5 linked regions of the Homo sapiens genome follow. The protein of the gene in region 4 interacts with the protein of the main gene of each other region in a biochemical or structural test. Each region holds a gene or a part of one and is shown on either strand. Other genes may lie near its edges. The genes, in order: MAST3, SNTB2, SHROOM4, DGKK and RHPN2.

Region 1 (4,288 bases), on a different chromosome or scaffold from region 4:
GGTTCAAATGATTCTCCTGCCTCAGCCTCCCGAGTAGCTGGGATTACAGGCACACGCCACCACACCCGGCTAATTTTTGTATCTTTAGTAGAGATGGGGTTTCACCATGTTGTCCTGGCTGGTCTTGAACTCCTGACCTTGTGATCCACCCACCTCGGCCTCCCAAAAGTGCTGGGATTACAGGCGTGAGCCACCGCACCCGGCCGGCTGTGGGAGTTTTTGACCGTCTTCTTACCTACGGGTTGTCCTGTTTGACTCCAAGTTCACTTTCTGGGCCACAGTAAAGGCCACAGAAATTGGTAAAGTCATTTGTGAATTTGCAGGACAAAGGGAAGGCCACTGCTAACACTGGTCCCCAGGCTTCCTGACCATCTTAACGTGGCATTTGAGGACACTGAGGCCCCTGGGCCCCAAAAGATCAGAGGGTCTCAGCATAATTCCCACAGGTGACCTAAGAGCAAGGCCACAGAGAGACAAAGAACAGTGCGGTGGTTCTGGAATCGGATGGGCCTGGGTTTGAATCCTGGCTTCATCTGCCCTTTCTTTTTTTGTTTTTTTGAGACAGGGTCTCGCTCTGTCGCCCAGGTTGGAGTGCAGTGGCGCGATCTCAGCTCACTGCAACCTCCATCTCCTGAGTTCAAGCAATTCTTGTGCCTCAGCCTCCTGAGTAGCTGGGATTACAGGCATGCGCCACCACACTTAGCTAATTTTTGTATTTTTAGTAGGGGGGGGGTTTCCACCATGTTGGCCAGGCTGGTCTCGAACTCCTGGCCTCAAGTGATCTGCCCGCCTTAGCTTCCCAAAGTGCTGGTATTAAAGGTGTGAGCCACCGTGCCTGGCCTCCATCCGGCCTTTCCCAGCCTTGGTTTCCTCTTCCCATCCCGGCTTACCCTCCAGGGGGTCCTTGGCCAGGCCCAGCTGCCCAATGATGTACTGTGGAAGGTCAGTCTTAATGCCTTGGCCCTCCCGCGCATGGCCCTCAGCCGCCTCCAGCAGGTGGTAAAATTCCTCAGGGTCAAACTCCTAGGGGCACAGGAGGGCTGGTCACCCAGGGCTTGGTTCCACCTGCAGGCCTCTGCACATGCTGTTCCCTCTGCCTGGAGCACCCTTCCCAGCTCACCCACTGGGTCTCCACTCCCGCTGCCTCCTTAGGGAAGCCCACGCTAGCCCAATAGCACCCTGTGTTCCTCTCAAAGCCCTACACGATGGGAACTGTCACCTGTATCTTGGCAGGACTGTTGTGGTCCCAATCTCAGTTCTGCCTGGACCCCAAGCTGGCCGTAGAAAGAGAAACTTACCAGACACTCCAGCAGCCGAGCTGGCCGTGAGATGATGATCAGCAGTTTCCGGACAAGCTGGACGATGAAGCTGACCTCCTCACTGTCCGAACGCTCATGGGCCTGGGGGAGGTGGGTCGTGGCATCACCCACAGGTCCTCAGCACCGTCTGGCCTGGGGACCCCCCTCACTCCACGTCCCACTGCATGCAAAACCTCAACATGCGAAAAACCACGCACATCCTGCAGAAGCCGCTCCAGCTTCTCCTGCATCTCTAGGAAGTAGCGGGAGGTGACGAGGTTCTCGCCAGACTTGGCCAAGCAGTCTCGGGCCAGCTCGACGATCTGGTGGTGGATGAAGCCCAAGACGCCATCAGCCAGCGCCAGCCGGGCGCCGGGCGCGTAGGCCGTCAGGAACTCCTGCAGACGGCCCTCCATCTGTGCTGTGGCCTGGGTGGGGCGAGACGGGGCGACCTGGTCAGAGGGCGGGGCTGGAGTGACACACGCAGAATGGGGCAGGAGAGGCATGGTTGGGGAGAGAGGAGATGGGGCAATGGGGCGATCGGGTGGGAGGGCTGGTGCAGGAGGAACGACATCTTTCAACGGAAGGGGAAGGAAAGACAGAAATGAACAGACTGGCAAAGGGGACATAGCCAGGAAGACAGAGTTCCATGGAGGGACAGCAATGTGGAAAGAAGTGCAGGGGCTGGTCCAGCCGCCAGGCGCTGCCCACCTTGGGGAACCTCTCCCGGTACACGTGATTCATCATGACAATCTCATTGTCGAAGGTCCCCGTTGCACGGCCCGGGCTGAAAGGAAGACAGCTGGCTTGTGATATGGGACCTGAGACCAACCCCAGGGGAGGATGTTGGGGGATCTGAGCCAGGGTTGAGGGACAAGAATCAGAGGCTAGGCTCAGGCAGGGTCAGGGCTGGGGTGAAGGAGGAGCCACAACTTGGGCCTCCACACCAGCCCAGGGAGGGGCCGGGGCTGGGGCCAGAGGTCGCGGCCCACCTGAGACTGCGAGAGCGGGGTCGGAGGCGGGGTGACCGGCCGCCTTCCTCATCAAGCACATTCTCTGAGCTGCGGAAGTGCTTGGACAGGAAGTGCAGCTCGTCCGGCGTCGGCTGGAAGGGAAGCTGGTGGAGACGTTCCCGGGAGGATGAGCTTGACTGGTAGAGAGTGGTGGGGATCAGAGCCATGAGTTCACCGTCAGTGCTGTGGCCAGGAACCCAGCACCACCCCTCAAGGCCCAGGCTGCCTGCTGGCCATCAGAAGGTAACATCCTTTCTCCTGCCTAGCTCCTATGCATCCCTCAAAACCCTAGCTCTGATGCCCTCTCCTCCAGGAAGTCCTCTCTGCCTGTACCCCTGGGCAGCCCCAAGTCCCCCTCTGGTCAGGCCCTGACCCCATAGGCTGAGGATATCTGTATCTCCCCAACCAGGGACTATTTTGGGGCCAAGGCTGGGTCTTCTCAGGGGACCCTGCATTTCCCAGAATGGGGCGTGCATGGAGGAAGTAACTAGTATGTTTGCTGACTGCACAACTATCCAACACCTTGAAAAAAACACACAAAGATGTGTCCCCCCACAACCCGGCATCTGCCTGTCCACCTGCCAAGGTGGGGCTATGGGTACCGAGAGGGTGGAGCTGGGTGTGTTGGTTCCATAGCCGGAAGATGGGAGAGACGCGAGGGACCATCTTCTGCCGTCTGCCCTGGAGAGGGGAACAAGAACAGATGGAAGGAAGGCCTGGCCCCTGTGGTTTGTGGGGACTAAGAACAGACACTGTGGCCAGCATATTCTGGCCCTGTTGTAGGAAGGATCTCCTGAAAATAACCAAGAACAGAGACACAGGCTGACCAAGTCCACTGCATGCTCTCTCTCTTTAGGTACCTCTTCCAGGAAGCCCCCCCGTGAGTCCAGCTGCCACTGTGTCCCCTGTCAAAGCTTCAACCTCTGAGCTGTAGCTTCTGGGGCACACATTGACCACCCCCCACCAAACGGAGGACTCCCCAGGGGCTCAGGGCCAGCTGCCCATTTGCGACCATGCCCTCAGCCCGCAGCACAGAGCATACACACAGTGGGTGCTTAATGAATGTTGTTGTATGAATAAATAAATGAAATGCAAGCGTCTGGCACATGACAGGTGCTCAATCAGCTCTTGTTAAGTGAATGAATGAATGATTTCTTTAGTGAGTTAATGATTCTTAGGGCTATATCCCCCCATGACCCCCCACCCCCTGGGCTGGTTGAAATTACCTGTCCATGCGTGGGATGTGGCTGCAAGATGGCATGCATTTGCCGGGAATGGGAGCCAGAGGGGGAGACCACCACCAGACGGGCCAGGGGAGGGGAAAAGGTGAATGAAATGAATGAGGAGCCAGGTCTAGCCACCGAGCACGTGCCCCTGCCCAACCCTTGCCCGTGGTGCCCGCACTGTCTCCCAAAGCCGGCAATCACTCACCTCCGGGCAAAGGGGAAATTTAGGGCAGAGGCAGCCGAGAAATTCCGAGGACTATCCAAGGGGCTGCTGCCTGCTGAGGAGGAGGCGGGGAAACTGAGTCAGCGGGGCAGAGGCAGGACACAGCACCCGCTGGCTGCTCCCACACTCACCCGTTGGGACCGACAATGGCGACAGGGGCCGGGAGAGGGTCGGGGAGGGCGTTCCTACCACCAAGCTCTTGCGGTTCCCGCTGCGGCAGCTGTGGGGGGAAAAGGGGACAGGGTAGGTGGCTGCCCAGGGCCCCGCGCTAAGCCACCTGCCCAGCCTAAATCACACTCGCAGCCCGTTCTGGAGAAGGATGGGATGTTGGACATGGCCACTCCCACTCTGCCCCCAGCTGGGTTCCCCCATGGCCCTTAGCCAGGTCTTCAAGGCCCAGGAGGGAATCACCCCTCAACTAACATTCCTTATTATTGACACTACTGCTGGCCAGGCATGGTGGCTCACGCCAGTAACCCCAGTGCTTTGGAAGGCCAAGGTGGGAGGATCCTCTGAAGCCAGGAGTTC
Region 2 (4,288 bases), on a different chromosome or scaffold from region 4:
CCTTCTGCCTCTTCCTCCCTGCCTGTCCAGTTTTACCAATTCTTTTTTTTTTTTTTTTTTTTTTTTTTGAGACAGTGTCTCGCTCTTGTCACCCAGGCTGGAGTGCAGTGGCGTGATTTCATCTCACTGCAACCTCTGCCTCCCAGGTGCAAGCAGTTATCCTGCCTCAGCCTCCCAAGTAGCTGGGATTACAGGCATGTGCCACCATGGCTGGCTAATTTTTGTATTTTTAGTAGAGACGGGGTTTCGCCATGTTGGCCAGGCTAGTCTCTAACTCCTGACCTCAAGTGATCCGCCCACCTCGACCTCCCAAAGTGCTGGGATTACAGGTGTGAGCCACCGTACCCGGCCAGTATTACCAATTCTTTAGGGCCTATCTGAAGGCCCATCTCCTCCAGGAAACCTTTTCTTGACTTTGGCCTCATTCACTTTGGTGTTTGCTCATGTTCTGTACATTCTGCCTTACACAATTGGGGATTTCCTGTCTATGCCAATGAGTTTACAAAGTCCTTGAGAGCAGGGACTGTGCCTCTTACTTCTCTAGTGCCTTGCACAGCCTACACACACTTGCCAGTATGAGTGTTCAGTGGGTACTCGAGGAATTAAATCGAACAGATGTCAAGGAGTGTTATGGTCATTTCTGCCTCATCTCAGTGACCAAAACAAAACACACTTCTTTTTTTTTTTTTTTTGAGACAGTCTTGCTCTGTCGCCCAGGGTGGAGTGCAGTGGTGCAATCTTGGCTCACTGCAACGTCCGCCTCCCGGGTGCAAGCAATTCTCCTGCCTCAGCCTCCTGAGTAGCTGGGATTACAGGCACCCGCCACCACACCCAGCTAATTTTTATATTTTTAGTAGAGACGGGGTTTCACCATGTTGGTCAGGCTGGTCTCAAACCCCTGACTTTGCGATCCGCCTGCCTCGGCCTCCCAAAGTGCTGGGATTACAGGCGTGAGCCACCACGCCTAGCACAAAACACACTTTAGAAGTTTCCATACAGGTTAGGTATCACACATTCTCAAGAAAATATTTTTCCTATTTTGAAGTCAGAAGATTCCCTTTTCACTTGATAACTGACATAGCAACTTTACAACTAATGTTTTTTGCTTTTCTTCAACAGGCTGCATGTTAAATGGCCAAGAGGTGAGGCTTACTATTCACTATGAAAATGGGTTCACCATCTCAAGGGAAAATGGAGGCTCCAGCAGCATATTGTACCGCTACCCCTTTGAAAGGCTGAAGATGTCTGCTGATGATGGCATCCGAAATCTATACTTGGATTTTGGTGGTCCCGAGGGAGAACTGGTAAGAGTGTTTCTGAAACACATGTTTATCTAATAGATGTTCTCTTTCCTTCTCATTACTTCTTACCCCTTATATACAAAGTCATGGACTGACATTCCATTTAGAACCATGAAATTTTAAATTAAAAAAAATTTTTTTAAAGATGGGGTCTCTGTCACCCAGGCTGGAGTGTAGTGGTGCAATCATAGCTTCCTGCAGCCTATACCTTCTGGGCTCAAGTGATCCTCCCACCTCAGCCTCCTGAGTAACTGGGACTGGACTATAGGTGTGTGCCACCATGCCTGGCCAATTTTTTATATTCTTTATAGAGATGAGGTCTCGCTTTGCTGCCCAGGATGGTCTTGAACTCCTGGCTTCAAGTGATCTTCCCATCTTGGCCTCCCAAGGTGTTGAGATTACAGGTGTGAGCCACTGTATCTGCTCTTCTTCAGTTTTCAAGATGGCATTGGGTGTTGGTTTTTGTTGCCGTCATTTTTCTTTTTTTTTTCTTTTTTGAGACGGAGTCTCGCTTTGTCGCCCAGGCTGGAGTGCAGTGGCACCATCTCAGCTCACTGCAACCTCTGCCTCCCTGGTTCAAGCAATTCTGCTGCCTCAGCCTCCCGAGTAGCTGAGATTACATGCACGTGCCACCATGCCTGGCTAATTTTTCGTATTTTTAGTAGAGATGGGGTTTCACCGTGTTAGCCAGGATGGTCCCAATCTCCTGACCTCATGATCTGCCCGCCTCAGCCTCCCAAAGTGCTGGGATTATGGGCGTGAGCCACCGTGCCTGGCCTTAGATTTTAAATCCTCTACTATTTAGTTCTTCCTACCAGGCATGGTGAAACCCAGTACACCACCAGTTGTCTCCTAATTGGGGATGTGAAACCTCACACCAGTATTATGACATGGAATAACCTTACTCCATAGTGCACTTTTGCCTGTGGCTTTAAGTTCCTAAGAGTTTCCATAGCTCTGGCACATTCTTTACCTACCTTAAATTTATTTTGCATCTTCGTTTATTAAGTTGTCTGTATATGGTAGTGAGGTAGTGATGCTTAGTGTCCTTTCTCCACAGACCATGGACCTGCACTCTTGTCCGAAGCCGATTGTATTTGTGTTGCACACGTTTTTATCGGCCAAAGTCACTCGTATGGGACTGCTTGTATGAGCAACAAAAAATCAGAAAAGAGCCTTGACTGTCACAAGAAATATTTCCACCTCAAAAAAAAAAAAGCACAAAAAGAAACTCTTTGCTCTCCTTCAGCACAGTGCCTTCCCAAGGACCTGCAAATAACTGCTGAACCATAACCGTGTTTAAAGAAGAGCCTACCTTTCACAGTCTACCTTGGCCAGATATTCTAGCACTCTAAAAGGCTCCAAAATGAAGCTGTTGATTTATTCTCATTTCAAAATATGGTTTATGAGTAATTAGGTTTATTTCTACTGCTAAAAAGAATGGCTCATTGTTTTCTTTTTTTTTCATTGTTTTCATTTTTAGACATAATCAAATACCCAAGCATTGTTTTCTTTTTCTTCTCCCTGTAGGATTTGTGTTGTGCTTAGCCTTGATCTCTTGTTCAGAACAATTGTCCCTTCCCAGGTGCTAGCTTGCAGCAGCCTGTTGCTTCCTGAGCATTCCAGATAGGTCGTATGTCTTGGAATTTACTGTCCTCACTAGCTCCTTCCACCATAGGAAGTCCTTGAATTGTATCACCAAAGGGTTGTTCCATTTGCCCTGGATCTCCCTCTATCTCAGCCTGGCCATCACTTCCCACCTTATCCCAAGCTTTGCCACTGTCTCTAGGACTTAGAACTTGTAAATTTGATTTGCCTTGCCTTCTACTTCCTTTCTAGTGGTGACTGAGTTGAAAAGCAAGTTGGAAGCCACTGCTTTTAAAGAAAAGTTTTGCTTGGTTTAGGTTTTTCCAATTTTATTTTTGTTAGGAGCCAGGGGATAAGATTTATTTTAAATGAAAATCCTCTTCCTAGGTTAAGCCATTTTTTTTATTGCTTACCAAATGTGCCTTTGGTTAGGGTTAGTGGAGCTTTATTAGTCACTATTTGAATAACTGGAAATCACTGCCATTTCCAGGAGATCACCTATCCTAGTTTTGAGGAATAGTCATTGAGGTGGGTTTCCTTAATGGCATCTCTTCTAGTAGGCAGATCTGTTTGAACAAGATAAATCCTAAAGAGCCAGCCTGCTTGAGGAGTAGACTTGGTGGGTGAAGCCAGCAATTCCGCACAAACGTCATGTTGAATTGTTTTGGGCTGCCCAAAAACAACAGGATGCAGCATCCTGGCTGTGGCCTGGCCCTTTGTGGCAGCAGTGGCATGGACAAGCAACTGCTAATTCGAGACTTACTATTGGCTTCACAGCACACCCTACAGTGAGCAGGGTGATGAGACCGTGGAACAGCTACCTGCTTTTGGTTAAGATTGCCAGATATCATTAGGACACAGTAGCAGCAAGAATGCTGATTTTGTAGTGTTAGAAAATGAACTCAGCTTGTTTTTCCTAATTTTGAAGGTGGTATATATCTGCAAACATTTAAAATGGTATAATATCATATAAAATGTCAAAATTAGCACAGTCCCTGGATCTCAAAGAATAGGTAATATTGACTTGGATGTTCTTTATGCTCTCTGAAGAAAGGTCTAGGGAAAGTTCTTGTTTGCTTGATTGATCAAGAGTGCCACGGAAGAATGTGAGCGCTGTGGAGGGTGGAGGAGGGTGTCACTTCAGATGGGGCAGGCACAGGGGGAGAAAAGAAGAGAAAAACACACCTGTGTGCAAAATGAGCTATTTGGTTTCAGTGCGGCCTGACCGATGGGGAGGACCCATGAGCAGAGAGAGTTCTAGGTCAACATTGTAACTCCATTGTCCTCCTTCACCCATAAGTCAGTCCTCCTTCCTCATTACAGTGAAACCAACAATATGCAGAGGTTGGGGAGAGATGCCTGTTCTTCCCCCAGCTTCATATAATTGTCAAAGTTCCAAA
Region 3 (4,288 bases), 250 kb from region 4:
CTGGTTTGAATGCACCGGCCAAAAGATGGCATCAGGGATGCCATGGGGAAGTAATCTGGCAGTGAGTAGGCAAGGACCTAGGGAGTCCTCCCAGAAGTAGCCTGGGGGATGGTGGTAGCTTGTGTTATGGTAATAGGTCATAACCGGGATATAAGAGCAGCCAGTTTAGACCTGGGTCTCCAACAGAGACAGGATGGAGAAAGGGGAAAGGATTTGTCTTTTTAAAAACCCAACAAGTCAGATCTCTGAAAGCAAAGCCTGGGGATATTTGCAAGTTTTGCATCTCTAAATACTTCTGAAGTAGAAAATGGGAGGCAATAAGTGATATTTTGTATCATGCACTGGGCCTAGAACTCCATAGACACAATCTGATTTGATTCTCACAAGTGATCCATGAGGCGGCCATGATATTCCTCCATTTTAGAGATGAGGTAGTGAGACTCTTCTTAATACTGGCTATTTTATGACAGAAAAATTATTTTTTCCCTTTAGAATTACATACTTCAAATTTGTGTGGTTGAATGACTTGCTTTGGGTCACTCAGATATCAATTTTATAGTCAGGATATAAATCTCAGTTGTGCCCATTTTATGAAGCAAAAGTTACTTTTATCTAACCCTAAAGATGAGACAACTGCAATTTTGGTGGCTGAGTATCTTTTTCAAGGTTACTAAGCTAACAACTACTGAAGCCAGTGCTGTACAGTTTCAAGGAATTATAATTGTTATATTTTTAAATAATTTACGTAGCTTTCCCCTCTCAAAGACAATAATGAAGGTTACCCACCCAAGAACCAAGTCCTCACCTGCACTGTCAGCTTCCTGGGTTTCCAAGTGTTGCCAGGTGCCAAGCTGCTGTCCTCGAGGGCACTGTGCTGAGGATTATGATAGCAAACTGAACACCGAATGCATTGGTGGTGGTGGCACCGGCAGTTGTAGCAATTTGGCATCATATTTCTCTTTAGCAAGGCAGGGCAGATTTCCCCAGAACAATAAATGCAAGGATCATGGACTAGAGCTCCTTGAACACTGCAGGAGTAAGAGCAGGTCCTGTGGTAATCAAAATCACCACAGTGTAGTGGCTTACAACACATGGAATTTTCTAGACCTTTGCTTGCAAAACATTCTGAGTAAGTGGGAGTTTCTGACTGAAGGGGTGACATGGAATGATATGATTGGTCTGTGGCATGATATGGTTGGTCTGCGGAATGATATGATTGGTCCATGGGATGGCGCCTCAATTCCCTACAGCTGGAGCTCATTGGCTGGAAGTTTTGGTCTATAGGTTTTGGTCTCTGGGTAAAAGTCTTGTTGCTATGAGTGGTTAAACCTGGCAAATGAGATGTAGATAAGGATTTGCTACTCTCTTCAAAGAACTTTCTTCTGTCTGCAAAAGGCAAGAGGATGGCATCCTCCCCAGCTTGAGCAGTAGAAGCCTTCAATTCCTTGTTGTCACCTGGGTTGGAAGGGCCTTCCATGGCTGCTGCCACAAGTGGCTGTGAATTATGCTCTGGAGACCATCTCCAATGACCTCCACGGACTCCACAGTGAGCATGTGCTTTCTCAGGGTCTGAGGAGGATGGGTCAGGTGCTTTCCACCAGGTGTTCAGGCCCAAAGAGGACTGGCCAGGCCTCTGGCCAGGGCTTATTCGTCCCTCTAAGCCTGTCCTAGATTCATGGCTCTCAGGGGCTTGGCTGAGGCACTCGGAAGACCTAGCTCTGAGCATCATGCTTTTGTTGAAGAGCTTGTCTCTGGGGCTGGGAGGTTTTTTACATGAAGATAGAAGAGATGTGTTAGAGGCAGTGAGTGGAGGACTTTCTGGGGGCTCCTGGGTCTCTTCCACTGGCTCCTTAGTGTCACACAGCTGTGACAAGGGACCCTTGCTTTTCTGGAGCTGGGCCTTCCTCCTCTGAATTTCATTACGCAGATTGGTAGCAAAACGCTCACTCTTCCGCCGGTTTTGGATCGAGCGGCCCCGGGTCCCTCCACTTCGCCTACCACCCATCCGGCTGCACTCCTTGGGCTCGCTGTCCCCTTCTTCACCTGCCTCTGTGCCACTAGCTGCTTTAGTGGTTGAAGAACAGTCCGTGGCTTGTTGAACAAGGGAGCCAGAGGCAGAGGGTTGCTGGTTGGCCAATTCACTGGCTGCTCTGCTTGTTCTGTTTGGGTCCAGGAAACCTTTTTCTGAGGGGTGTCCATCAGCCTCTCCATGTGGGGGACTGCTTTGGCTCTGGTGTCCCAAAACTAAAGACCTGTCATCCACTTGTCTGGTCTTTCTTTCTTTGCTGGACTGGTCATGGGTTCCTCCTGTAGGGGGGCATGGACTTTTCTTCCCTTTGTGGCTGCTGTGCAAAGGGGACAGAGTCCACTGGTGCCCATCCTGTACGGGTGGGAGCTCCATCCCTTTGCTGCCCCTGGTATCAAGGTGCACATGCTGCAGGTGGGATGCCAGCAGCTGTTCAGGGGCACTATGGCGATGCCCTGTGGGTCCTATGAGATGTGGAGGTCTGCCAAAAGAAGCCTTAGCTAGCTCTGCAGAAGCCTCATTGAGTGGGTTGGAATCCACGCTGGAAGCTCTGTCACAGGCTTTTGGGGATCCAACAGCTTTGGTTGAGGCCTGCATCAGTAGATGCTCAGAGCCCTGTTGGCTGGATTCAGGAGGCTGACTGAACTCACAGTTCTGATGGCCCTCACTTGTCACTTGGTCATGCCCACTGAGGCAACAGAACCTATTAGGGTTCCTTGCGGGTAGCACAGGCTCTAAGCTCAGTTTCTCCTTCTGTGGCAAGGGGACCACAGGCTCAGATGCCCTGCGCTGCTCTCCATTGAGGAGTTGGGCTCTGGAGGCCTGAAGGCTGTCCCGCCTCACTGGAGGTTGTGGTGGGCCCCTGACTGCTTTGGCGGGCCCTGACTGGTATCCCTCCTGTGGACGGGATGACATCTGAGAGCTGGGGGTCAGGTGGCCCCCATTGGTGCGCCGACTACCTCCTGAGGTCTCAGCCACATTAGGCCGGCCACTGGGGGCCTTAGTTGGCCCTGGGCCTTGCATGATGCAGTCTGTAGAGGCTGGCTCCTCTGGCCTGAGGGAAAGGGCACAGTCAGAAGCATTTGAGCTGGCCGAGAAGGAGCTGTAGGCTGAGTCACGCTGGTTAGGGTACATGTTCTGGTCAATAGGCAACAGATGGCTCTCATAGGTGGCTTGGCCTGGTTGCTCCAGGCTCTCCATGCTGCCAATGGAGCTGCTTTTCTCGGTGCTGCAATGCCGGGAGAGTGGACACCACTGCACACACACGTCACTGTAAGACACAGGGCATACTGGTTAGTTAGCGAAGTCATGGCCAGCCCTACTATAGGAGAGGGCAGGCCAGCCCAGAGGTACCCATGCCACAAAAGAGAGGAGGGTAGGCAAAAAAAAAAAAGGGGGAAGAAAGGGAAACAGGGAAGAAGATGGACATTGGGGTGCCTCAGGGGCTTAGTAAAATGGGACACAAGATGATATATGGAAAAAAGATGGGGAAACACCCCAAAGACTAAAAGTGGGAGAGCTCTATGGGGGTTATCCTCTATTTCCCTGACATTAGCAAGTCTGAAATTGCTTCTAGGCTGTCCCTGTCCCTAGGGAGTCAGCATGTGGCTCCCTGCCAAAAGAGACAATCACAGAATATCAGCATTAGAGAGGGGCCCTAAAGGGCTGATTCAGTTTTAGCCGGACCATTTTGTAAATAAATCAGTGATTCTCAAACTTGAGCATGTGCGTCAGAATCACATGCAGGGCTTGTTGAAACACGGGTCACTTGTCCTCATCCTAGAGCTTTAGGTCTCGGTGAATCCTGAGAATTTGTACTTCCAACAACTTCCCAGGTGCTGCTGGGGCTGCTTGCTCATCCAGCAATCACACTTTTGAGAACCACTGGTGTAAAGCAAGCCCAGCAAAGGGAAGTGATTTTGAGATGGTGATTTACTCAAGAACACCCAGCTCTAACTACTGGCACAGACAGGGCTGTAATTCAGGTGTTCCCCTATTCTTTTCTTGATAATAGCAATCCTGACTATTTACTGAGGACCTACAATGTGCCGGACACTTTACAAGGTTTCATTTCAAGCTGAAGAGGACAGATCTTTTTTTTTCTTTTTCAACCTTTATTTTAGATTCCGGGGGTACACGTACAGGTTTGTTACAAAGGTATATCACATGATGCTGAGGTGTGGAGTACAATTGAACTCATCACCTGGGAAGTGAGCAGAGTACCCAACAGGTAGTTTTTCAACCCTTGTCCCACTTCCTTTC
Region 4 (4,288 bases):
CACCTACGCAAGTGACTAAACCAGTGTGAGCCTCAGTTTTCTCATATGTAAAATGAAGACCATTGTAGAACTTGCATCATGGGTTTGCTGTATTTATTACATTTATATATGAAAAGTACTTGCACTGAGTAGTGCTTGGCACCCATAATTAAGTGTTATATGCATTTGCAGTTATTATTGTTATTATTATAAATAATTAATAAATGTTAGTTGTTGTTATTACAGAGGACTTGCTTTTTTTCACTGTTGCCCTTAACAGTAAATGGTTGAAGATACTAAAAACTAAAATGGTCACTAGGGGACTAGGCAGCAAATCTAAGGACATCTGTCTCACCAGTTCTCCCTCTTTAGAATATCGGCAGCAGCCAAGTTCTGCCACACTCACTCATTCTGAGTTCCATTAAGAAGATCAGTTTGGACATTAGTTAGAGAAACTCCAATCTCTGGACTGTGGTTGAGGGAGGCAAATCTCATGTGAGAGATGTAAGGTCAGTATGGTAATGAATAAAAAAGTAATCTAAGATTAAACAGCTAAACTGTATCCATTTAATTTCTCAAAAGGACACAGCTAGAAATTATTTATGTTTTCTTAAATAATTTATTTAAGAAAACAATTTTTATTCCTGTCTCCAACCCGCATTCTTGCCCCCACACTTCACCATTGGCTCAAATTTATGTCTGAGCTCTCATGGATCTACCTAATGAATTTTGATCAATAGTGCACTGGCAAAGTGTTTAACAACCTCCTCTCTTGGGGGAGAAAGCCCTGATTCATTTATGGTGTAAACCCTTCCACCATGGCCTATTTAAGTTAGTGATATAATGCCATTGAATCTGGAGTTGGAAAGAGATATGCATAATCAGTTTACATGAGCTGGTGCCAACTGGCTATGGCACACCACTGGTTTTGATGCTGACACCCTAGATGGACACAGGAGACTTGACAAATAATTTGGCTTTTTTGTTATGTACATATCTACCCTCTTTTATCAGTCTTTCCTTCCAAATGTGTGGTCATTTTCCCCTTTGATGTCGGACATCACTGAGAGCAGTTGTGCAGACTTAACTGTCATGGCACGTTTGTGTCTAGGATATTCAAAAGTTCTTTATAGGAGTAAACAGTATTTCCCTTAATACTACATATGAAGAAAATATGGGCCACTCATACATAAGGCCTCCAAAGATGACTAAAATCATCAATGTTGCTTCTTTATTATGAGTTCCAATCCCACTGAAGCTTCCCAACTGGCGAGGCACTCCCTCTTACAGCTAATAAGCTAGTTGTTCACACAAAAGGATATCTACATGTGCCTCTCAAAAATGTTATAGTTAGTGCCCAGTGTGGAGGGGGCCTTCCCTCACTGGTTTTCCATCATGCAGATTCATCTTCATGCCCAATTGATAGCGGCACTTCTTTCCTGCACCAATGTCTGTCCTCTTCTTTGAATAATTTCAGACGCTTCAAAGAAAAATGTGTCATGAACAACTACTTCGGAATTGGACTGGATGCTAAAATTTCTCTGGACTTCAACACCAGAAGAGATGAACACCCAGGGCAATACAAGTAAGGAAAAGAAACTCCCTTCCCTACATGCAAACACACTATCACAATACACATACGTATTCCTACATTCTCTACCTCTCAGACAAGCAACAGAAAGAAAGGGACCCACTGGAAGTAAAATGCATTGGCCCCAAGACTAGTCTAGCGGGACAGTGTGTGCCAAATTTTGGATGACTGCACTGGCATCCTAAACTTGAGCTGCCTTCAAATCCAGACCTGTGGATTTCTGTGTAAACACAGCTACCTGTGTTACTGTTACTGACAACAGATTATGTTGACTCAATTTAGCAAATCGCCCACCTTTGTTCTGTCTGTGAAAGTTTAACCAGGTTTCAGTAGTGGCTTCAGATCTGTTTTCACTTGACAAAGTTGCAAAGTATCAAACATCCCTCTATTTGTTTTTGGTGTTCCTAACCTGGTTCCCCTGAACCCGTTAATTTTACCCTATCCAGTGTTGGCCTGCATGGCACCTTCTCGCACTTTCATACTTCAGACAAGGCCTAAGTCAGTCTCAGAGTTCTTGTGGTACATTGAAGCTATAAGTAAAAAGTGTGACACCCCACCCCACAACACCCCACCCTTGCCACCACCACTAGAACCTCTTTCTCAAAGCAGGCCTGGGCTGAGAAACAGGAACTTTGTCAGATATGTGATTTGCAAATATTTTCTCCCAGTCTCTTGCTGGTCTTTTCATTTTCTTAGTGGTATCTTTGAAATACAAAAGTATTGAATTCTAAGGCGGTCCAATTGATCAGTTTTTTTCTTTATGGACCATGCTTTTGGTGCCATCTGTAAGAAATCTTTGCCTAATCTGAGATCTTAAAAATTTGCTCCTAAGTTTTCTTCTAAAGTTTGTATTGTTTTAGCTCTTATTAATACATTTAAGTGTATGATCTACTTTGAGTTAATTTTTACGTATAGTGTGAGGGTCTAAGGTAAGAGTCTAAGTTTATCTTTTTGCCTGTGGATATCTAATTATCTCACCACCATTTTAATTTATTTATTTGTTTATTTTTTTTATTTTCTTGGAGACGGAGTCTTGTTCTGTCGCCTAGGCTGGAGTGCAGTGGCATGATCTCGGCTCACTGCAACCTCTGCCTCCTGGGTTCAAGTAATTCTCCTGCCTCAGCCTCCCAAGTAGCTGGGACTACTGGTGCATGATACCATGCTTGACTAATTTTTTGTAATTTAGTAGAGACGGAGTTTCACCATTTTGCCCAGGCTGGTCTCGAATTCCTGAGGTCAGGCAATCCGCCCGCCTCAGCTTCCCAAAGCGATAGGATTATAGGCATGAGCCACCGCGCCCGGATCTAGAGCCATTTTTCAAAACAGCTATCCTTTCCCCAGTGAATCGTGTTGGCACCTTTGTCAAAAATCAATTGACCACAAATGCAAGGGTTTATTTCTGGACTCTCACTTCTGTTCTATTTATTTATGTGTCTATCCTATGCAAGTACCACACTATCTTGATAACTATAGCTTTACAGTAGTTTTTGAAATTGGGAGATGAAAGTCCCCCACTTGATTCTTTTTTTCAGAATTGGTTTGTTCTAGGTATTGTACATTTTCATATACCTAAACTCCTATTTTTGTAGATGAGAACACCAAAGTGCCCAGAGAATGAATGGTTTAAACAGTGTCTCAATAATTTTGTGCTAGCCTTCTGACATTTCAAAACTCATTCCATGTGATGATGGCTCATTTCTGTGGCTCTACTTTACAAGCTCCAAGTAAACTATATCCAGCCTTTCTAGTGATCGTAAGTGCCCCACCTATTTCTATCAGAGATTCCACAGTCAACAAGACGCTGTCCTCCCCACCTCCACCTCAAGTCACCTGATATCCTTTCCTGTCTCCTATTTTTCTCCACTGGCTCCTCCTCTAAAATCTCCCTACAAGCTTAGATCTGTTCCATGGCATTGAATTAGGCATTTAGTATATGGATCTGGTGTTTGGAAAAGTACTTCACTTTGCCAGAAAAGTTGCTGCTTCAAAAAAAATTGCACTCTAAGAGTCACGTGTTTCAAATGAAATTGATTCCAAGCAGCTGAAATCTCCTGGAGTAGCACAACTAGGGTAGCTGGTGTGTACCAGCCAGCTACGCTCATAGCTTTTTATGAGCATTGATGTCTGAATATAGCCTGTTTCTTCCAAGTCTGGACCAATATTGGTAGCAAGCAGAAATGGAAAATTTATTTATTGATAGGATACTGAGGCTTCAAAGGGGCCCAGGAACCCATTTCTTCAAGTGTTTGCATTGGATATCAGTTACATTAACCGCTGTCCAGTTGCCATTTAGCATGACTCCTCTCTGTAAGAAGGCATTTGAGAAGTAAGATGGTTTTCCTTCCTGTCTTTTTCCACCATTTATCTATATATCATTCACCCTCTGCTTTCTTAATGCTTACCTCCATGTAGTAGCCGCCTTAAGAACAAGATGTGGTATGGCCTTCTGGGAACCAAAGAACTTTTGCAGCGCTCTTACAGGAAACTGGAAGAACGAGTGCATTTGGAGGTTAGTGGAAAAGCGGGTAGTCTTTCCTGGGTATGGAGAAAGGAAATCTCATGGCCTTGGGAATACCGTACATGCTGATTCTTCCTGAGCTTTAACTCTGTGATCCTCACAGCTCATGGGAGGAAGGCATGAAGATAGATTTCCATGTAATGGAAGAGAAGACAGAGCCCTTTCCCCATCTCTGTAAATGTTCCTTCATGTTGCTATCT
Region 5 (4,288 bases), on a different chromosome or scaffold from region 4:
AAAAAAAAAAAAAAAAAAAATCTCAATCCGTCTGCTCCAATGGAAATTTTCATGCTGCAGCCTTCCTCTGACTTCTTTGTAGTTTAGAAAATTAACTGTCCAAAGCGCTAACTGACAATCAATCTGGAACTGAAATAGAATCTCTCATATGAATCCCATCCAACTGGTTCCTCTGGTTTTGTTGCTGAGCAAAAAAAAAAAAAAAAAAGCCCTGCCCTGCGGAGGGATGGCACCTGCTGTTTTGAGCTGCGAGCTCCATGGGGGTTCCCTCACACTCCCCACTGTTCTCCTACTTGCTTCATTTCGTCTATAGTTTGTCTCCATTGATATAATCTCAGAGACAGGACACAGAGTGCCTGCCTAAGATTCCTCAGAAAGATGAGTCCAGAAAAAAGATTTACAGCAAAAGAAATCAACTCATACTTGGAATCTTAGCATATCGCTTCATCCCGATAGACCAATCTTTTATTTTTTTAATTAATTAATTATTTTTTGGGACAGGGTCTTGCTCTGTCGCCCAAGCTGGAGTGCAATGGCGCGATCTTGGCTTACCACAACCTCGGCTGATCCTTCTGTCTCAGCCTCCCAAGTAGCTGAGACTACAGGCATGCACCACCAGGCCCAGCTAACTTTTGTACTTTTTGTAGAGATGGAGTTTCGCCTTGTTGCCCAGACTGATCTCAAATTCCTGGGCTCCAGCAATCCACCCACCTCAGCCTCCTAAAGTGCTGGGATTACAGGCATGAGCCACCATGCCCAGCCTATTTCATTAATTTAAAAAAAAAAAATTCTTTTTAGGGATGGAGTCTTACTCTGTCACCCAGGCTAGAGTACAGTGGTGCAATCATAGCTCACTGCAGCCTCAAACTCCTGGGCTTAAGTGATCTTCCCGTCTTAGCCACTGGAGTAGCTGGAACTACGGGCATACACCACCACGCCTGGCTAATTTTTAAATATTTTGTAGAGATGGGGTCCTCCTGTGTGGCCCAGGCTGGTAGGACCAATCATTATAACATCAGAAATTTCACGATGAGTCAAAGTGGCAAAGCTATGGTTCTTCACAAGCTTGCAGGGCAAAGTGATATCAAACAATGATCCACACGGGTGGAAGGGGATCACACCCCAAAGCAGAATGTCGATGATCAGCCCAGAAGGCAACACGCTATAGAGCTAGCGTGGGGAACACACTGTGGTCTACACTGTGCCCTGCTCTTGCATCCATCCCCACGTGGAGTCTGACCCAGACACAGCCCTGCTATGGGGGAGCAAGGCAGAACCCGCAGGCACAGGTGAGCCAAGCCAGGCTCACCCACAGCGCTGGGTCTGTTGACCCCAGTCCTCTATAGGTGTAAGCACTAGGCTGCTTTTCTCCTCAACACCGCACCTCATTCTCATACTAAGATTACCTGAGGTCAGGAGTTTGAGACCAGCCTGGCCAACATGGCAAAACCTCATCTCTACTAAAAATACAAAAATTAGCCAGGCATGGTGGCAGGCGCCTGTAATCCCAGCTACTTGGGAGGCTGAGGCAGAAGAATTACTTGAACCCAGTAGGCAGACGTCGTAGTGAGCAGAGATTGTGCCACTGCACTCCAGCCTGGGTGACAAGAGCAAGACTCTATCTCAAAATAAACAAATAAATAAAATAAAATAACAAAAGACAGTTCCCAGAAGAAGGGAACTGAGCTATGAGACATCCTTTGAATGCATCACTTGACAAAGGGTTGAGAACACCCACCTCATGCTGGAGAAGTTGGCAGAATGCAGGTGATATAAAGGCATGGAGGGGCAGGGTGCGGTGGCTCATGCCTGTAATCCCAGCATTCTGGGAGGCTGAGGCAGGCGGAACACCTGAGGTCAGGAGTTCGAGACCAGCCTGGCCAGCATGGCGAAACCCCATTTCTACTAAAAATACAAAAATTAGCCAGGTGTGGTGGCGGGTGCCTGTAATCCCAGCTACTCAGGAGGCTGAGGCAGGAGAATTGCTTGAAACCAGGAGGTGGAGGTTGCAGTGAGCCGAGACCATGCCACTGCGCTCCAGCCTGTGCAACAAGAGCAAAACTCCATCTCATAAATAAATAAATAAATAAATAAATAAATAAATAAATAAAGGCACGGAGAGTAATACGCACTGATAAGGTACACCTAATACAAGAAAAAGAAGCCTACAGTTTCACTATTTGGGAAAAGTTATTCTGCTCTTCATGACAGTGTTGAAAGAAACAGTTATGCACTGCCATCCCAGGGGCCACTTGTCTGGAAAAGATCGTCAGCCACAGGATTCACCATGTACATCAGCCATCCCAGACTGAGGTCTGAACCACCGAGCAAGTTTTTTTTTTTTTTTTTGAGATGCAGTCTGGCCTCGATCTCCTGACCTTGTGATCCACCCGCTTTGGCCTCCCGAAGTGCTGGGATTACAGGCGTGAGCCACCGCGCCCGGCCGGAGCAAGTTTCTTAATGGGAAGTTACACCAGAGCTGGAGACTGGTCTGGCCCTTGCGAGGGATGACCTGTAGATTCTCTTCAGTGGGGGGTCCCCTGGTGCCACCGGGTGGGGCCAAGGCTCCGTCTGGTCAGCCCTGGAGGAGACATACCTGCGGCTCTCTGAAAGGCATCTATGGCACTCTCCAGCCCAGCCTGCGTCTGCCGATCACACCGGGTCCCAATCTGGGTGTAGAGGGCCCCAGTGTTGAACAGGACACTGGCCTTCTCCAGCAGCAGGTTCTGCTGGCTGACCGGAACCCCGGTGAGAGAGTCATACCTATGTGAAAGAAATGCATTCCGAGAATACAGATTACTTGGCTAGTTAATGCTACAAGTGGAAAAAATTCTTTTTTTTTTTTTTTTTAAGAGTCAATATCTCACTCTGTTGCCCAGGCTGGAGTGCAGTGGTGTGATCATAGCTTACTGCAGCCTTCAACTTTAGGGCTCAGTTGATCCTCCCACCTCAGCCTCATGAGAATAGCTGGCATTACTGGTGCATGCCACCATACCTGCCTTTTTTTTTTTTTTTAATTTTTGTAGAGATGGGGTCTATGTTACCCAAACTGCTGTCAAACTCCTGGGTTGGCTGGGTGCGGTGGCTCACGCCTGTAATGCCAGCACTTTGGGAGGCCGAGGCAGGTGGATCACCTGAGGTCAGGAGTTTGAGACCAGCGTGGCCAACATGGTGAAACCCAGTCTCCACCAAAAATACAAAAATTAGCCAGGCATGGTGGCGGGCGCCTGTAATCTCAGCTACTCAGGAGGCTGAGGCGGAAGAATCACTTGAACCCGAGAGGCGGAGGTTGCAGTGAGCTGAGATCGCACCACTGTGCTCCAGCCTGGGCGACAACAACAACAACAAACTCATTTCTTCAGTAAAAGTCAAGAATGCATGTGCACTGAGGCTTTTGTTTCCAAGCAAGATGACAGGACTAATCACACTGACCGCCACAGCCACACACAAAAATATCTGACGGGGTAACTGGATAAACACACCATGGGACATCCAGACAATGGAATATTACTCAGCACTAAAAATGGAGAAATGAACCAGCAAGCCATGAAAAGATGCAGAGGAAACATTACTAAGTGAAAGAGCCAACCTGAACATTGCTACCTACTGTATACGCTGTGTGATTCCAACATTCTGAAAAGCCAAAACCCTGGAGACAGAAGAAAGATCAGGGGTTGCCAGGACTTAGGGGGAGGGAGGGAGGGGGAGCACAAAGGATTTTTCCAGTAGTGAAACTCTTCTGTATGACACTGCAAAGGTGGATCACTGTCATTCTATGTTGGCCAAAAGCCACAGAATACACAAGTGCAAGAATGAACCCTAATGGAAACTATGGACTCTGGGTGATAATGATGTGTCAGGTAAGTTCTTCAATTATAAAAAAAAAAAATGGGCTGGGAGCGGTGGCTCATGCCAGTAATCCCAGCACTTTGGGAGGCCAAGGCGGTATGGCTTCTCCTAAATGAAATATGGCAATTACTAACCCCTCATAATTCTTTCTGAAATCTAAAAACTCAGGATTTGTTTTAATTTGTTTTACTTTTTATTTTTTCAGACAAAGTCTCACTCTGTTGCCTAGGCTGGAGTGCGGTGGCATGATCATGACTCACTGCAGCCTCAACCTCCTGGGCTTAAGAGATCCTCCCATCTGAGCCTCCCAAGTAGGTGGGACTACAGGCATGCACCACCCATGACCGGCAAATTTTCTCTAATTGTTTTGTAGAGATAGGGTCTCACTGTGTTGCCTAGACTGGTCTCAAGCTCCTGGGCTCAAGCGATCCACCCACCT

The links.
Region 1: the proteins of DGKK (region 4) and MAST3 interact in a test that uses a peptide from one of them, tested with the Homo sapiens proteins (one large-scale study listed by IntAct).
Region 2: the proteins of DGKK (region 4) and SNTB2 interact in a test that uses a peptide from one of them, tested with the Homo sapiens proteins (one large-scale study listed by IntAct).
Region 3: the proteins of DGKK (region 4) and SHROOM4 interact in a test that uses a peptide from one of them, tested with the Homo sapiens proteins (one large-scale study listed by IntAct).
Region 5: the proteins of DGKK (region 4) and RHPN2 interact in a test that uses a peptide from one of them, tested with the Homo sapiens proteins (one large-scale study listed by IntAct).

The regions. Positions count from the first base shown.
Region 1 is NC_000019.10:18,121,377-18,125,664, reverse strand, and holds part of MAST3 (microtubule-associated serine/threonine-protein kinase 3), read right to left. Parts: intron 3,981-4,288; coding exon 3,892-3,980; intron 3,816-3,891; coding exon of another isoform or gene 3,813-3,815; coding exon 3,743-3,812; intron 3,559-3,742; coding exon of another isoform or gene 3,538-3,558; intron 2,993-3,537; coding exon 2,914-2,992; intron 2,449-2,913; coding exon 2,291-2,448; intron 2,086-2,290; coding exon 2,010-2,085; intron 1,727-2,009; coding exon 1,517-1,726; intron 1,401-1,516; coding exon 1,299-1,400; intron 1,024-1,298; coding exon 891-1,023; intron 1-890.
Region 2 is NC_000016.10:69,298,471-69,302,758, forward strand, and holds part of SNTB2 (beta-2-syntrophin), read left to right. Parts: intron 1-1,119; coding exon 1,120-1,304; intron 1,305-2,361; coding exon 2,362-2,454; 3' UTR 2,455-4,288. UniProt on the Homo sapiens protein: Adapter protein that binds to and probably organizes the subcellular localization of a variety of membrane proteins. May link various receptors to the actin cytoskeleton and the dystrophin glycoprotein complex.
Region 3 is NC_000023.11:50,632,373-50,636,660, forward strand, and holds part of SHROOM4 (protein Shroom4), read right to left. Parts: intron 3,297-4,288; coding exon 806-3,296; intron 1-805. UniProt on the Homo sapiens protein: Probable regulator of cytoskeletal architecture that plays an important role in development. May regulate cellular and cytoskeletal architecture by modulating the spatial distribution of myosin II.
Region 4 is NC_000023.11:50,379,772-50,384,059, reverse strand, and holds part of DGKK (diacylglycerol kinase kappa), read left to right. Parts: intron 1-1,456; coding exon 1,457-1,564; intron 1,565-3,982; coding exon 3,983-4,079; intron 4,080-4,288. UniProt on the Homo sapiens protein: Diacylglycerol kinase that converts diacylglycerol/DAG into phosphatidic acid/phosphatidate/PA and regulates the respective levels of these two bioactive lipids.
Region 5 is NC_000019.10:33,005,418-33,009,705, forward strand, and holds part of RHPN2 (rhophilin-2), read right to left. Parts: intron 2,764-4,288; coding exon 2,597-2,763; intron 1-2,596. UniProt on the Homo sapiens protein: Binds specifically to GTP-Rho. May function in a Rho pathway to limit stress fiber formation and/or increase the turnover of F-actin structures in the absence of high levels of RhoA activity.